Linked DNA regions of Homo sapiens. The protein of the gene in region 1 purifies or fractionates together with the protein of each later gene. This does not show direct contact. Each region holds a gene or a part of one and is shown on either strand. Other genes may lie near its edges.

Region 1 (3,500 bases):
GGAGGCAGGGTGTGGTGGCCACGCCTGTAATCCCAGCACTCTGGGATGCTGGACGCAGTGGCTCATGCCTGTAATCCCAGCACTTTGGGAGGCTGGGCGCAGTGGCTCACGCCTGTAATCCGAGCACTCTGGGACGCCAGACGCAGTGGCTCATGCCTGTAATCCTAGCACTTTTGAGAGGCCGGGGTGGGCGGATCACAAGGTCAGGAGATTGAGACCATTCTGACCAACACGGTGAAACCCCATCTCTACTAAAAATACAAAAAACTAGCCAGGCGTGGTGGCGGGCACCTATAGTCCCAGCTACTTAGGAGGCTGAGGCAAGAGAATCACTTGAACCCAGGAGGCAGACGTTGCAGTGAGCCGAGATTGCACCACTGCACTCCAGCCTGGGCAACAGCGCGAGACGCTGTCTCAAAAAATAATAAAAAAAAGGAAATGTAGTTCCTGTTCACGGGTAGGTTTGTCATCCCCTGCCTGAGCCTCTTCCATCGATGTCTCTTTCCCTGTGTACAGGACATCACCTGTTCCAACCCAGTGTGATCTATTGGCTGGAGCAGGAAGAGGAGTTGAGGGCAGGGCGGAGAGCAGTTCTCCAAGGTAAGTGTGAAGAGCACGCCTGGTCGATGTCAAGTTTAGCAGCTGTGGGAGGATCCTGAGTGTCAAGTTTAGCGGCTATGGAAGGATTGTGTCAAGTTAAGCGGCTGTGGGAGGATCCTGAGTGTCGAGTTTAGCGGCTGTGGAAGAATCCTGAGTGCACGTTTTAAGATGCATTCTGGCACAGAACATGAGGCTGTTGGCTCTGGGTATCCTGAGCTTCCCGTAATTCCTTATTTTCCATCTGATCTGGATTTTCCCTTTCTTGTGATCTCATAAAAAACCTGCTGTTTTGTTCTTTCAGTTTGTGGGTTTTTTTTTTTTTTTTTTTTTTGAGACGGAGTCTTGCTCTGTTGCCCAGGCTGGAGTGCAGTGGCACAATCTTGGCTCACTGCAAACTCTGCCTCCTGGGTTCACTCAGTTCTTCTGCCTCAGCCTCCTGAGTAGCTGGGATTACAGGTGCGTGCTGCCACGCCTGGCCAAGTTTGTGTTTTGAATGTATGCCCTTTGTCCAGCTCTTTCCTGCTTTCTTTCATTGATAATATTGTTTCTGTTCACCTCACATTTCTTCTTTATGGACCAAATGTATTTTAAAATCTTCTAAATTATGACTCCCAGTTCCTATGATTCCAAATTTTACACATAGCCAAACTCCTTAAATCTATCTTTGCTTTGTTTTTTTTTCTGCCATGTCTTATATGAAAACAAATACCAATGAGTTTGATCGTTTTTAGGTCATTCTTCTTTCTTTTCAGAATGGCGACTTAAAACCAAAGGGCCAGCACTTCGGCAGGATAGATCTTGGTTCAGAGCATCAAATGAGACACAGACGGTAAGATTAACAAGAGAGATTTTTTTATTTATCACACTCATAAAAGATTGGGAATTCCACTATAGAAAATGAGCAAAATTGAGAGAATTTAGAGAAGCAGGATTCACTCAGGCAGGGGTTGTCTGTAGAGAACACTCTGAATGTGCGGAATTTGGGAGGACCTCATCCTGTCTTGAAACTTGGTGCTTCAGACACACATCAGCGCACACATGACGAGGTCTTGAGATCGCAGAGCTGTTTTGTGCGCACAGACTTTTCGAAGTTAGAGCAGATGGTGCAGGATTCTTTTTTTTTTTTTTGAGATGAAGTCTCACTCCATCACCAGGCTGGAGCGCAGTGGCACGATCTTGGCTCACTGCAACCTCCGCCTCCTGGATTCAAGTGATTGTCCTGCCTCAGCCTCCCAAGTAGCTGGAACTAGAGGCATGTGCCACCATGCCCAGCTAATTTGTGTATTTTTAGTAGAGACGGGGTTTCACCATGTTGGCCAGGATGGTCTCGATCTCTTGACTTTGTGATCCTCCCACCTCAGCCTCCCAAAGTACTGGGATTACAGGCGTGAGCCACTGTGCCTGGCCGATTCTTTTTTTTGACATGGAGTTTTGCTCTTGTTGCCCAGGCTGGAATGCAACGGCGCAATCTTAGCTCGCCGCAACCTCTGCCTCCCTGGTTCAAGCCATTCTTCTGCCTCAGCCTCCTGAGTAGCTGGGATTACAGGCATGCGCCACCATGCCCAGTTAATTTTGTATTTTTAATAGAGACGGGGTTTCTCCATGTTGGTCAGGCTGGTCTTGAACTCCCGACCTCAGGTGATCTGCCCGCCTCGGCCTCCCAAAGTTCTGGGATTACAGGCATGAGCTGCTGCGCCCGTCCTGATGGCACAGGATTCTTGCAGTGGGGCTCCTCATTTGACTTGAAAGACATCTACAGGGCAGGAGCTGCTTGCATGTTATGAAAATGGCAAAAATCGTAATCATCATCGTCATGCTCTGTCTTCAGCTGGGTGAGATCTATGAATCAGCCTCAGTAACCCCCTGACCACCACTCATTCTTCACCAACAGGCAAGAAGCCACAATGGAGGGCAGCTCTGTGACCGCACGCAGTGTGGAGAAGCTTTCAGTGAACACTCAGGCCTCAGCACACACGTGAGAACTCAAAATACAGGAGACAGTTGTGTGTCTAATCATTATGAAAGGGACTTTTTTATTCCATGCCAGAAAACCTTGTTCAAAATTGGAGAGCAGTTTTCCGTGTTGGGTCAGTGTGGAAAAGCCTTCAGCTCTACTCCAAATGTTGTTTCCCAGCAAGCATGCACTCGGGACAGATCTCTTGACTACAGCAGCTGTGGGGAAGTGTTCCTTAATCAGTCATACCTTCAGGCACGTGCGGGAAGTCACAACGGAGAAGAAACATGGAAATGGAAGCCGTGTGGGAAAGCTCTAACTCACTCCATGGGCTGCGCCACACCTGTTGAAATGCATGCCGTCAGGAATCCCCACGTATGTAGGGAATGTGGGAAGGCCTTTAGGTACACTGCCTACCTTACTGGTCGCGTGCAAGTCCACCCTGGGGAAAAGCCCTGTGAATTGGAAGAATGTGGAAAAGCCTCCCCTGTTTCTTCCAGCCTAACTCAACATGTAAGAATTCATGCTGCAGAGAAACCCTGTGAATGTAAAGAATGCGGAAAAGCCTTCACTGGACTCTCAGGTCTTTCTAAACACGTCCAAACAGACCCTGGACAGAAGCCCTATGAATGTAAGGACTGTGGGAAAGCCTGCGGTGGGTTTTATCTACTGAATGAGCATGGAAAAACTCACACGAGGGAGAAGCCCTTTGCATGTGTGGTTTGCGGAAAATATTTTAGAAATTCCTCATGCCTTAATAATCATGTTCGAATTCACACTGGAATAAAACCCTATACATGCAGCTACTGTGGGAAGGCCTTCACTGTGCGCTGTGGCCTTACTAGACACGTACGAACACACACGGGCGAGAAGCCATACACGTGTAAGGACTGCGGGAAAGCCTTCTGTACATCCTCGGGCCTTACTGAGCATGTAAGGACTCACA
Region 2 (3,500 bases), on another chromosome or scaffold:
GTGAACAGTGTTTCAGAATGGTTGTACTGATTTATACTCCTAAAAGCAGCATATAAGAGTTCCAGTTGATCCATAGCTTCCTAACATGTGATATTTTAACATTTTTATCATTTCAGCTGTTCTCATGGGTACAGAGTAATATCACATTGGTTGTGGTTTTAATTTGAATTTTCTTAATGACTAATTGAATTTAAAATTTTTTTGGGCTGTTTGGATATTCTCTTGTGAAATATCTGTGCATGATTTTTGTTCATTTTTCTTTTGGGAAGTCTCCCTTTTGATTTGTAGTTTTCTGTGCACTTTGGATATAATTTTTTTTTCAGATACATGTATTATGACTATCCTCTCACTCTGTGGTTTGCCTTTTCAATTCCTTAATAATACATTTGATAAACAAAAGTTCTTAATTTTAATTTGGCTTGATTTATTACTTTTTTTAATGGCTAGCACTTTTTGAAATCTTTGCCTACTCCAAGGCTACAAAGATACTGTCCTATGTTTTCTTCTAAAATCTTTATTGTTGGACCTTTCACATTTAGATTCGTAAACCACCAGAATTGATTTTTGTCCATGGTGTGAGGTGAGGGTCAAGTCTTTTTTTTTTTTTTTTTCCAGATGGGACCAATTAATCAGGCTTTTATTTGAAAGACCACTCTCTCTCCTCTTCATTTTCAGTGTTGTCTGTGTCATAAATCATGTGACCATAAATGCATGGGTCTGCTTCTGTGTTCTATTTTTTCATCCTTTACTAATTTCACACTGTCTTAATTAATAAAGTCTTATAATAGGTCTTGATATGTAGCAGTGTATGTACTTTAGCTTTTTTCTTCAGGATGGCCTTGGCTATTCTTCACCCTTTGCATTGAGATTTTGTTAGATCTATAGATTAATCTGGGGAGAACTGACATCTTTACTGAGTTTTCAAATCTATGAACCTAATCCATTTACTTAAGTCATTTTTTTCTAGTAATGTTTTGTTGTTTTTGGTGCAGGGTTCTTACATCTGTTGGTTAGATTTATTTCAGGATATGGATGTTGTTTGATGTTCTTGTGAGAGACATCTATTTTTGTTTTCTATTTACTGCTATTTTATATAATTTGTCCTTTTATGTTTACATATCCAGCAACCTTGCTCAACTCTCTTATTAACTCAAAAGGTTTACTTTTTTGGTAAGACTTTGTTCTTTTAGTAAAGTTTAATGTTTACTTCAATGTTTCATGCTGTAAATTTATGACAGGATGGGAGGACCTCCAAGGAAAAATTGTTGAGATAATTTATGAAGAGGCAGTCTTTAAAATTATCATAAGACTGTGATATAGGAAATCTTCAGGGAACTCTGTCTCTCTCTCTCTTTTTAGAAAATTTTTAGAAAATATAAACTGATGGCCAATTTCCTGAATTAAGAAATAGGCATTTATTGAGTTGATACTATGGTCTGAATGTGCGTTCCTTCAAAATTCATATGTTGAAACCTAACCTTCAAGGTGATGGTATTAAGAGATGGAGCTTTTGGAAGCCAGTAGGTCATGGGAGCAGAGCCCCCATAAATAGGATTAGGACCCTTAAAAAGAGGCCCCAGAGAGCTTTTTGTCCTTTACACATCTGAGGACATAGCTATAAGGCACCATCTATAAACCAGAAAGTAGGCCCTCTCCAGATACCAAATCTGTTACTGTCTTGATCTTGGACTTCTCAGACTTTAGAACTTTGAGAAATAAATTTCTTTGTTTACAAGCTACCAAATTTATGGTATTTTGTTATAACAGACCTAACAGACTAAGACAGATGATATGTGTGAAGATGCAAGTATTTGGCCAAATACAAGGTGGTGTTATGTAAAGCATTTCAAGAGACTGGAGAGGAGGAAGTAAATGACAGATATGAAATTAGTCATATTCATTTATTTATTAACTCAACATTTTTTTAATTACCTATTATGCCTCAGGCACTGTTCTGGGTAATAGTGGTACAGCAATTTGAATGAAAGCATGATAAGTAAGTAAATAATAAGACGCCTGATATGTCACATGGTGATAAGCACTATAGAGAGAAATAAAACAGAGAAGGAAGACAGGGAGTTTCCCCAAATCTGGGGTTGGGATTTAAATAGCACTATCAGTCATGGCCTCACAAAAAGATGTTAGTGCTAACAGGGAATGAGCCATGAGAATGTGTTTTCAACACAGATGGGACAACTACAAAGATCCTTGTGGCTGACAGCAGAGTAAGCTGTGGGAGGTGTAGGGAATGAGATGACAGGCAGGGAAGTGTGGCACACAGATCACATAGGGAAGGAGGCACTGTGAAGACTTTGGATTTTACTCTGCATGAGATGAGAATCTTTTAAAAGGTTTTTAAAAGAAGAGTCATGTGATCTGACAATGTTTTAAAAAGTTCATTCTGGCTACTGAATTGAGACTGGTTTGGTCGAGATGGGGGACAGTCAAAGCAGGAAGCAGTTAGTAGGTTCTTTTAGTAATCCAAGGGAAACATGATGGTAGTGTGGACTGGGGTGGTGGAGGAAGTCCTGAGAAGTGATCAGGTTCTGGATTTGTTTTAAAAGTAGAACCGGCAATATTTCCTAATGATTTGGAAGTGGAGTGTGGGAGAAAGAGAGGTCAAAGGTGACTTCAAAAGTTTTGGCCTAAACAATGGGAAGATATGGCTGCCATTTAATTAAATGACAGGTTTTGAGGGATGATCAAAATTTGTTTTTAGACATGCTAGATTTGATATGTCTGTTCAACATTGAAATGGAGATGTTACATGTGTTAATGTGTACACATACATATGTAATGTGTGTGTATACATATAAGCTGAGTTTAAGGGAGAGGTATAAGCTGGAGATACAAACTTGAGAATCTTAGGTTTGTAAAATAATTTTTTCTAGATATATTCTTTTGAATTGCTCTCATAACTGAAAAAAGTATTAGGACTCACTCTTGATCTGATAATATATAAGGTGTCTAGTCTTTAAAAAGGTTGTTTAAAGACAAAAATTGACTAGGATGTGTAGTGAGTAGAATTGGGAAGGAAGCATGCTATGGACCTCTTTGATTGGTAATGTTTCATTTCTTGCTCACTGATATGGTTTGGCTGTGTCCCCACCTAAATCTCATTTAATTCCCATGTGTTGTGGGAGAGACCTGGTGGGAGGTAATTAGGAAGTATAGCTAACTTGCTTTTGATTTTACAAGCTGATAGGCAAAAGGGACTTGCCTTGTCTCAGATGAGGGACAAGGGGCAATCATTGGGGCAGGTCTTTCCCATACTGTTCTTGTGATAGTGAATAAGTCTCACAAGATCTGATGGTTTTAAAAGCGGGAGTCTCCCTGCACAAGCTGTCCTCTCTTGTCTGCCAGCATGTGAGACTTGCCTTTCACCTTCCATCATGATTGTGAGGCCTCCCAGCCATGTGGAACTGTAAGTCAAATAAACCTCTTTCTACAGTCCAGGCTGAGGTAGTCTTAGTTGGAGATGAGGAACTTGTTGGGAAATG

What was found. The genes of interacting proteins can lie anywhere in the genome.
Region 2: the proteins of ZNF778 (region 1) and SNX16 purify together in Homo sapiens (affinity purification with mass spectrometry; one large-scale study listed by BioGRID and IntAct). This does not show direct contact.

What each region holds. Positions count from the first base shown.
Region 1 is NC_000016.10:89,224,203-89,227,702, forward strand, and holds part of ZNF778 (zinc finger protein 778), read left to right. Parts: intron 1-516; coding exon 517-600; intron 601-1,352; coding exon 1,353-1,429; intron 1,430-2,491; coding exon 2,492-3,500. UniProt on the Homo sapiens protein: May be involved in transcriptional regulation.
Region 2 is NC_000008.11:81,835,686-81,839,185, reverse strand, and holds part of SNX16 (sorting nexin-16), read left to right. Parts: intron 1-3,500. UniProt on the Homo sapiens protein: May be involved in several stages of intracellular trafficking. Plays a role in protein transport from early to late endosomes. Plays a role in protein transport to the lysosome. Promotes degradation of EGFR after EGF signaling.